2 separate regions of the Homo sapiens genome follow, and region 1 is linked to region 2. A link means that fine-mapping ties the variant in region 2 to the expression of a gene that starts in the linked region. Tissue or cell type: lung. Region 2 holds a variant in brackets; the other region holds the start of a gene. Each region is shown on its reference strand, or each on the opposite one.

What was found. PIP is the estimated chance that this variant, and not a neighbour inherited with it, causes the effect. A credible set is the group of variants that fine-mapping cannot tell apart.
Region 1: it holds the start of OAS2, and the variant in region 2 is the best candidate, but not a certain one, in a credible set for the expression of OAS2 in lung (TOPMed, PIP 0.81).

Annotation. Positions count from the first base shown.
Region 1 is chr12:112,976,448-112,981,834 of GRCh38, forward strand. OAS2 (2'-5'-oligoadenylate synthetase 2) reads left to right here and starts at 2,072. Exons shown (of 10, transcript NM_002535.3): 1 at 2,072-2,338. The coding sequence starts at 2,162. RefSeq lists enhancers at 1,617-2,426, 2,647-2,726, 2,897-2,976, 3,087-3,236.
Region 2 is chr9:21,410,774-21,416,160 of GRCh38, forward strand. No RefSeq gene overlaps it. Among named protein-coding and RNA genes, the nearest start is that of IFNA8, 4.4 kb to the left of the region's middle. The variant C/G (reference allele first, on the strand shown) is at 3,031.

The DNA of each region.
Region 1 (5,387 bases), not on the chromosome of region 2:
ACTCATGAAGGGCTGGGCGTGGTGGCTCAGGTCTGTAATCCCAGCACTTTGGGTGGCTGAGGTGGGAAGATCGCTTGAGGCCAGGAGTTCGAGCCCAGCCTGGGCAACATGGTGACATCATGACCCCCATTTCTACCAAAAAATTTTAAAAATTTAGCCAGGCATGGTGGTGCATGCCTATAGTCCCAGCTACTCAGGAGGCTGAAGTAGGAAGATTGCTTGAGCTTGGGAGGGTGAGGCTACAGTGAGCTATAATCACGCCACTGCACTCCAGCCTGGGTGACAGAGTGAGACTCTGTCTCAAAAACAAAACAAAACAAAAACCTCCTAAAATGTATAAATAGCAAGAAAATGAGGGGCAAATGTGGTAAAAAATATAATGGCTAAAAAGTCTAAGGAAGTTCTTTGTGTGCATCTTGTAAATTTTCTCAGCATTTCAAATTACTTCAAAATAAAGTGTTTTTTTAAATAACAAATAAAGCACAGGCTTTGGAGTCAGGCAGTGTGTTAGTGTGAGAACCTAGCCTGACAACTTCCTAGCTGTGTGATCACGGGCAAATGTTTCCACCTTTGTGAGCCTCCATGTTCTCATCTGAAAAAGGAACCTTAGGACTACGCCTGCCCAGCCTGCCTACCTCTCGGTGTTGCAGTAAAAGTTGGATAAGGGCAGGAAAGGCCCTTAATGAGCATGTGCATTAATCGAGGTTTTTCCAGAACTAACAGGGTATTTATATTTATTTTGAGGTATTTATTTTAAGGAATTGGCTCATGTGATTGTGGAGGCTGGCAAATCCAAAATCGGCAGGGTAGACTGGCAGGTGGGAGACCCAGGAAGGAGTTGCTGCTGCAAGTGGAGGCCAAGGCACTGCAGCCGAATTCCCTCTTCCTTGGGGGAGCTCAGTCTTTAGTCTATTAAGGCCTTCAACTGATTGAATCAGGCCCACCACCTTACAGATGATAATCCACTTTACTCAAAAAAAAAGTCTACCAATGTAAATGTTAATCTTATCTTTAAAAAATACCTTCACAAAAAGATCTAGGATAATGTTTGACCAAATATCTGGGTACCTGGGCTCAGCCAACTTGACACATAAAATTAACCATCCCAGTATGGAAGGGCCCTGGTCCCCCACTACATCTTGGAGATTTTTGCCTTCTCTGTGAATTATTATTGCTGGGCCAAGGCAGCTGGCTGGGAGTCCTCTGCGAGTTTTGTTTTCAAAGCTCTGGGCACAGGAGTTGCATGTCTGTCTCCTTTCTGGCTCACACACTTGGGGTGTGTTTTCTTGCCCTTGCGAGGCTGGACAAGTGCCTCATACGGTCCCTCGGCTGTCCACAAGTGTGCTGAGAAACTGGACACACAGAGGTTCCCACCCGCTGACCACACGGGGGCCTGTGTTTACCCAGAAGCAGACCAAAACCTGAGTCCAGCTAGGTCCCTGCTTTGCTGTGTGTCCCTGAGCAAGTCAGTTCCCTCTCTGGGTCTCTTTTTCCTCTCTGCCGCTTTCCCTGAATGTGAGTTCCCTGGCCACTGAGAACAGGGGGAAAGGGACAGAGCCTCAAAAGATGACCTGTGCGCCCCTGCTTCTAAGCACTTTGCAGGTATTATTTAATCATCAAGCTAATCCTACGAGAGAGCTGCCATTTTCCCCCAGCTTACAGATGGGGGAATTGAGGCGCGAAGAGGGCAGGCGATGTGCTCAAGGACAGACATCTAGCAGGTATGAAGCCCTCACAATGGGGTTCTAGAGGCTGTTTAGTTAACCTCAAGTTTTGGGGAGCCCCTGAAGGGCTGGTCACCACGCTGCCGGGGACAGGGAAAGCCTCTGAGCTTGAGTCAGTTTTGGTTTCCCTGCTGGGGTGCAGGAGTCAGTAAACCTTGCTGCAAGGGGCGGGGAAGAGCATTTGAGCTTAAGTTAGTTTTGGTTTCCCTGCCCCGGATGCAGGAGTTGGTAAACTCACTGCAAGGGGCAGGGCAGAGCCTCTGAGCTTAAGTTAGTTTTGTTTCCCTGTCCCGGATACAAGAGTTGGTAAGCTCGCTGCAGTGGGTGGAGAGAGGCCTCTAGACTTCAGTTTCAGTTTCCTGGCTCTGGGCAGCAGCAAGAATTCCTCTGCCTCCCATCCTACCATTCACTGTCTTGCCGGCAGCCAGCTGAGAGCAATGGGAAATGGGGAGTCCCAGCTGTCCTCGGTGCCTGCTCAGAAGCTGGGTTGGTTTATCCAGGAATACCTGAAGCCCTACGAAGAATGTCAGACACTGATCGACGAGATGGTGAACACCATCTGTGACGTCCTGCAGGAACCCGAACAGTTCCCCCTGGTGCAGGGAGTGGCCATAGTGAGTCCAGGGCTGAGGTTGGGTCTCTGGGAGGCAGGAGATTCCACGGCGGCAGCAAGGCCGAGCTACTGGGTGCTGGGTGCCTATTATGTGCGAGGCCCACACTTGGGTGGGATGTGGTGTAGGAGTCTCAGGCTCTGGAGCAGGCGCTTGCTCCAGAGCTGTGTGACACTGGGCAGGCTACTTAACCTCTCTGTGCCTCAGTCTCTGACTCTGTAAAATGGGGAGAGGCATAATACCCACTTCAGAGTATCGTAAGGCTTGAGCACATCATGTTCTTAGCAAAAGACTGGCAGTGCTCAGTGAATTCACTGTGATTACTCACTGCGATTTTCTTCTATCCTCTCCACAGTACAGAGGAGTAAACTTAGGGAGGCTAGAGAACTTTGTTCAAACTACCCAGGTTGCCTTGTGGTTTCTCCGCAGCAAGAAGGAGTGGCTTTTATCAGTTAGAAATATTTGGTTTTGTGGACACAAATCTCAGGACTGAGGCTGAAAATTCTGGACCTCTGGGGAGGAAGGGGGACTGGGGAGATGCCAGGACCCTAGAATTGGGGGCGTGGGGGTCCTGATGGCCCAATACTATCCTCTTAGCCTCCTGAGCTGCTGACGTCCCTTCTCTGCTGCTGCCACACTTTTTGGTCTCTACCCCTTGCACACATCCGCTAGTGCCTCAATAAAGAAATCTAGACACGTGGTGTCCCCAGCCCTGGCCCAGGCCAGCAAGCTAAGGCAAGTTTGGTTAATAGCTATTGTCAGAACTGGGATTTTAAGCCTGGGTAATTGGCTTGAGGGCATGCATGTTTAACCACTACACTATCCTGCCTCTCAATTTTTTTTTCCTCATGGAAGTAAAACAGAAAAAGTGCCCAGATCAAAGTGTCCAGCTTGATAGGTAGCCACAAACAATGTAACTGTGTAACCCCCACCCAGATCCAGAAACAAAACATTCTCAGCCCCCCAGAGCCCTGGGCCCCCGATCCAGTCAGCACCTCCAAACCCAGGTAGGCAATCTCCTGACTTCTAACAGCATAGACACGTTTTGCCTGTTTTTAAACGTTTTACAATTATAGGGTGACCAACTATCCCAGTTCATCCAAGATTGGGGTGTTTCCTGGGATGTGGGACTCTTGGTGTGAAAGCTGGGAATGTAAACCAGGATGCATGGGTGAACCCTACATAAATGGCATCATGGGCTCTGTGTGCTTTAGTGCGTGGTTTCTCTGACCTATGATGTTTATGAAATTTATGTTGTGGGGTACAGTTGTTTATCTTTTCATTGTTGTGTCAATTCCATTATGTGAATATTCCACATTTGTCCATTCTACTGTGTTTTTTTATTTTTACATAATTGTGCATATTTATATGGGGTACATGTGATATTTGGACACATGGATACAATGTGAAATGATCAGGGTAGTTAGGATATCCATCACCTCAAACATTGATCATTTATTTGTGTTGAGAACAGTTCAGATCTTCTCTTCTAACTATTTTGAAATATATAATAAATTATTGTTAACTATAGTCACCCCATTGTGCTATCAAACACTAGAATTTATCCCTTCTATCTAACTGTATGTTTGTATCCATTAACCAACTTCTCTTCATTTCCTCCTCTACTTCCCAGCCTCTGGTAACTATGATCCTACTCTCTACCTCCATGAGATCAACTTTTTTTAACTTCCACATAAACACATGCAATATTGTCTTTCTATGCCTGACTTATTTCATTTAACATAATGACCTCTAGTTCCATGCACATTGCTGCAAATGACAGAATTCCATTCTTTTTGTGTCTGAATAGTATTCTATTGTGTATATATACTACATTGTCTTTATCCATTCAGCTGCTGATGGATACGTTGGTTGATTCCATATCTTGGCTTTTGTGAATAGTGCTGCAATAAACATGAGGGTGCAGTTATCCCTTTTTTGGATAAATACCTAGTAGTGGGATTGCTGGATTGAATGGCAGTGCCATTTTTATTTTTTTTAGAAACCTCCATACTGTTTTCCGTAATGACTGTGCTAATTTACATTCCCACCAACAGTGTGTAAGATTCCCTTTACTCCAAATCCTTGCTAGCGTTTATTTTTTGTCTTTTTGATAATAGCTATTCTAACTGGGGTGAGATGGTATCTCATTGTGGTTTTGATTTGCATTTCCCTAGTGATTAGTGATGTCAAGCATTTTTTCATATACCCATTGGCCATTTTGTATGTCTTCTTTTGAGAAATGTCTATTTAGGCCCTTTGGCTGCTTTTTAATGGGATGGGTTGTTTTCTTTGCTGTTGAGTTGTTCACGTTCCTTGTATATTCTGGATATTAAACCCTTGTTGGAAAAATAGTTTCCAAATATTTTCTCCCATTCTACAGCTTGTCTTTTCACTCTTGATTGTTCCCTTTGATGTGCAGAAGCTTTTTCATTTAATATAGTCCCAATTGTCTATTTTTTGTTTTTGTTGCCTGTGCTTTTGAAGTCTTAGCCACAAAATACTTGCATAGACCAATATCATGAAGCATTACTCTTCTGCTTTATTCTATTAATTTTATCATTTCAGGCCTTATGTTTAACTCTTTAACCCATTTTTAGTTAATTTTTTATAAGATGACAGACGGGGGCCTAGTTTCATTCTTCTACATATGGATATCCAGTTTTCCCAACACCATTTATTGAAGAGAGTATCCTTTCCCTAATGTGTGTTCATGGTGCTTTCTCAATCAGTTGGCTGTAAATTTGTGGATTTGTTTCTGGGTTCTCGATTCTGTTCCTTTGGTCTATATGTCTGTTTTTATACCAATCCCATGCTGCTTTGGTTACTATAGCTTTGTAGTATATTTTGAAGTCACGTAGCATGATGCCTCTAGCTTTGTTCTTTTTCCTCAGTACTATTTGGCTATTTGAGATCTTTTGTGTTTCCATACAAATTTTAGGATTGTTTTTTCTATTTCTGTGAAAAAAAATGTCACTGGTATTTATAAGGATTGCATTGATTCTGTAGATTGCTTTGGGTAGTATGGTTATTTTAACAATATTAATTCTTC
Region 2 (5,387 bases):
AAAGAGTTATCAGTAGATTTACAGAAGATATACATTGAAACTGTCCACTACCTCGGGAAAATAGATGGCACTGGCAACCTTATGAGAGTTATTATGGTAAAATAAATCAGAACAAACCATACTGTAGTGGCTGGAAGTATAAATAAGAGAAGTTAGTGACTCTGAAGAGGGCAAAAAAATAGGATGTGATGGGGGAAAGAATGTGAGTTACTTTTTCTGTGCATAGTATTTCCTTTATTAATATTTTTCTGGATAGATTTCATGTAACTGATGTACTAGCAAATCATATTAATATACTTAATATATTATTTTAAATCATGATATATTATTTACAATTATAATTTATTATTGTTTTAATTAATACTACTTTGGCTATCAGTAAGCTACCTAGTTTCTGTTCATCTGTTAGGGAGTAAGAGATAACTAATTCGATCCTTCACCGAAATAATTAATGATGATAATATAATGACACCTGGAAGTATTGGCCTTATTTGTTGTTAACTTGCATCATTGTCACACTGGTTTACTACAGTTCTTCTGCACCTTTACAATCCATCTTAATTTCTTGTAGTGCTAGATATAAGAATTCTTTTATGTTACACTTTGGTAATTCTTCCTGATTTCATGAATATTGTAGTCTTAGATCAATCCAGAAAGAACCGAATTACTATGGACATAAAGACTGACAAACATCCTTCACAAAATAAAAGTGGGAAACAATCAGAGACTTTCTTTCTCAATACGTAAGGTAAAGAAAAAAACTGGTCAACATCAAGTGAAAATACATGAACCACGCATATTCAGAGAGCAAGGAAGAGTTATGTATAATTCATGAATAAAAGGAGATTTAGCAATTATGACAGAAATCTGGAATACAAAACTGACAAAATCACCCATCAATTACATTAAAGAATTTGATACTGAAATTTCATTCTGCTGGGAGGTAGGTGTATTGTTGATCATTCTGCTTAATCTCTTTGAGCCTTAGTTTTCTCATAGAGCCTTAGTTTTCTCATAAATAAAATGGTTTCAAAATATTTATATAGTTGTGAGTATTAAAGGAACACATGCATTTTAAAGCACCTACGATAATATCTTTTATCGAATAAGGAGTTAAACTATGGTAGGTATTTTCCTATTTTTCTTCATACAGCTGTAGATGGTAATATTATTTGTCTTTTTATAAAATTCTTAGGAACTATGTCCTATATTTTAGTAACGGACCTCCAATGGAAGGAGATTAAGAAAATGAGAATTCTAGAGAGGCTGAAAAATTGTCAATCCTCATTTCAAAGATGTGTCCTATTTATATGCAGTCAGGGAATGGTGGCTGCTCCTTTTCCTGAGATAGGAGAAGAAGCATCTAGTTTGAACTGCAGAAGACACATGATGTTTATTGACTGATTCTGGCACCTGGTACATTCCTTCCCTGGCTCTCAGCATTCCAGGATGCAGTCTCATATCACCAGGGTTTCCTTGATCATTCACTCCCTTTATCCTTCTGCCCATTCACACAGAGCTGCTTTCTGTTCTGTTGTGGTTCTGGCTTCATGGTTTCCCTAAATAGCAGAAAAGTAAAAGTAGAAAGCAGAAGTTAAATAAAAAAGACAGTCCCCTGGGACCAAGTGTAACAAGAGCAGCAACCAAGACTGGAGGGCAGGTTTCTGATCTATGGAGAAATCCTACCAGTTCTGGAGATTTCTCTTTGTGCTGCAAAAAAGCTACTTATTGGCGAGAAGAGACGCTAATGTTGTCCAAGTTTGTTCCTTATCCCTGGTCTATTACAAAGAGAATGAGTTTCCAGGTACAGTCAAGGCATGGACTCCTTGGGATTCGCAGTGATAGGGACACAGAGATGTAATATCTGCCCACCCTACTGTGCAGAACAGTCTACTCCCCAGGATCACCCCATCCTCATACATTGGGACTCCAGGGCACAGGTAGGGCTGCCGTTTTGTATTGGAACTTAATACTATTCACAGAAACCTCATGTTTAATGGTGCATTAAACCAGCAGTACAATCTTAATTTCACAGATTTAATCCTAATATCAGAGTTCAAACATTAACAAATTAAAACATTTTCTCACTGTCATTTTGAATAATGATCTTTCCAGTTCTTCCACTCAACAGTAAAACCCCTGCCCAGTTAGAAAAAGGAAGAATTCCCATAGAAGCTAAGGAATGTGAAAGAATAGCATTACTGTTCCCTGAGAGCTGGCGAGGTCTATTTATTCAAATGTATCAATTTTGGTAGAGATTGAGAGGCATTCCTATAATTGACACCATATATTCTGGAGTTATTTCACTAGGAAGTGTGTGTGAATTGCTGAGGTAGCAGGGAGGGAGAGCCTACAACTGCACAGGGGCCTCTTGAGTCTTTTCCTCCAGCTACACACTCAACATCTGGATTTGCTGCTTTCAGACTGGGAGTTGACCAGGGCCTTAGACAAATTACAAAAAATTGTATTGTTTGCAGTCTTCTTCTGTCCTCTAGAGGGGAGGATGGAGAAATTTAGGAGTGACCAACGGGGAGGTAATTGAATCATGGGGGTCGGTCTTTCCCATGGTGTTCTCGTGATAGTGAATAAGTCTCATGAGATCTGATGGGTTTATCAAGGGTTTCTCCTTTTGCTAATTCCTCATTTTTCTCTTGCCAGCACCATGCAAGAAGTGCCTTTCACCTCCTGCCGTGATTCTGAGGCCTCCCCAGCCATGTGGAACTAACTGTAAGTCCAATTAAACCTTTTGTTCCTAGTTTCAGGTATGTCTTTATTAGCAGCATGAAAACAAAGTAATACATCTTCCCTCTCCTTTCTTTAAGCAGAAGGAAGGGTCTCATTTGGAGTTCTGAACTGTGCTTCCTGGGGTTACGGGAGAAGTGTTGCAAGTACTCCTTTAACCTTTGTTGCTGGTGTCTCAGTAGGTCACACGCCCCCTTCCTGTTCGCTGCCTCTGAACCCAGCTCAGCACTAGGAGTTGCTTAGAAATTACAGTCCTTGTGGCCTAGGCTGCCTTTCAAGTTTATTTAG[C/G]GTCCCAGAGCCCTTTAGTCCATGGTGGGGAGGTTTGCTGGAACTCAATCTCCCATCACTGGGATAGGACATTTCCCTCTGGCTAGGGCTGGTTCAAATGCTCCCTCTATGGGCAGGCACAGCTGAGTACAGCCCTGTGCTGCTTTCTGCTGTCAGAGGGCAGCCATGAATTTAAGGCAAAGTCTCACACGTACTGTACTCTCCCTCTCCCAAGTGCACAGATTCTCCATGCCATGTGGCTGCTGCTAGGGATGGAGGCAGGGTGGGGATGGCAATTCAAGACTGTCTTTCCTACCCTCTCCAGTGCCTCTTTTAGTGATATAGAGTTAAAATCAGACACTGTGAGTGTTCACAAGATTTTTGGTTCCTATGAAGATGCTCCCTTTGCATAGACAGTTGTCAAACTTGATGTTCCTACCGAGAGGGTGGGACCATCGATGGTGCCCTCCATTCAGCCACCTTGCTCTACCCTCCATAATGTCTTTCAAATGTTATAACCTCTTTCATTTTTTTCAATGCTTTAAAAAAATTATATTCAGGTTGTTGTAAAAGTTTTATGACTTGGCTCCAAACTGTCACCTTGCCCTGGAAATCTCTATAGCCATATCTTGCATCATATCCTGGAGTTATTAACCAGTTATGTGTTCTACAGTAGTCAGGAATCAAGCAGTGGGTCTGGAGGACCAGGACAGAGAGTGAAGTTGGAGGGCAGTGAGTGCTGAGATGCCCCACCCATTCAGGTCCCTCTGTAGTGCCAAACATTACTTCCCCCTACACTCCCAACCCAGCTGAGGTGCATCTAGTTTACCTGAGAAGGGCCACAGGGAGCATGGAGAAGCACTCCAGTTCCCATGGAGACTTGGCAAGGGCTAACCATGCAGCACTAGCTGGAGACAGCTAAGTTTTTAGAGCCTTGGAAGCAAGAGTGTGAATATGACCTTGTTTTGACCCCTCCTGCCAGGTGATTCATGAGCTGTGGGGGGTCCAGACCCACTGATGTCCAGTCAGGCCACAAAATGCAGTAAATGGAAGGAGGCCTTCCCCCATACTTATGACCCAAAGAACTGGTAAAGAATGCAGGAGCTCATCTGTTCTTATGTTTAGAAGTTTCCATGTTCTGATTCCCCTAAGAGGAGACTGCACCAGACATAGGACTCTCATTTGTTTAAAAACAAACAAACAAAACAAAACAAAAAAAAACAGAATACATCACAACACAAAGAAGTTGAAAAAAAGAGGAGCAGTCTGATATCTTGGAAGGAGAATAGAGATGTTTAAAACATTGACTGCAACAGTGGCAGGTCCTCAAGAGATGGAACTACGTGAATGAGCAGATGGAGTTAACTGTTCAGATCCTCTGATCATAGAGAGGGAGAGAAGATTGAAAGTGGATGAAGACTGAAGCACAGAGTCGTCTCACAGAGACATGGCCAACCTCAGTGACTCCAGCATGGGAGACACTGATAGACCACAGTAGCCTGCAGAGTTTTGGAAGGGACAAGCCTTATTCTAGTGCCAGCTGCCAACTGCTGTTTCCTCTTAAGGACCTAGCAAGTCATCACTCCACAGGGAAAATTATTCCATGAGGCCAGTGCAATCTAAGACATCTCTTAAATTTTGGTTATAATGCAGCCTCCTTTAAAACTAAAACAAAATGAAGCAATACCTGAACAGAAGGGACATATCAGGTATTTGAGTATAATTAGAGGCAAGTAGGGCAGAGCCTTCCAAGCAGGACAGATATTAGTAATGTGCATATTTGAAGATCATAATAACTAATGATAGCAAAGACCTTTGTCAATATTCATTGAATGAAAATAGTTGAAAAATAAAACATTGGCAGTTTGATTCCCTTTGTTTTCTTTCCAGTTAGTACATTCTGCGGTGAGTCAGCATATTTAGAATTTGGAACTCTTCCTGAAGATTAGAGTCCATAAAACAACAACAACAAAAAATCAAATTTAAATAAGTAACAAATTAGAACTATCAGCCATTAATGTATTATATAGCACCCTGTGACAGCCAATTATGAAGCTAGTGATGATGAAATCTTTAGAGAATCAGACAACTACAAACAATTCATCTCTTGTTGTATAAAAGGAAACTCCAATTGTGCCTGTTAAAGGAGTTATAATGAGCTCCGCTTGCGGTGATTTCATGTGAAGCAAGCTACATCCTGTACTGATGGCACTAGGGCACCATCCCAACTCCCCAGATGGCCAAGACACCTTGACAGGGATTATTGCCAGAGCATCTGGGTTATAGGGAAAAAAGTGACTGTTTTAGATGCTAATCTGCCATGTCACTCCTGATTAACCCCAAGTCTGGGAATGCCTCCAAGATATCTAGTTAATGCA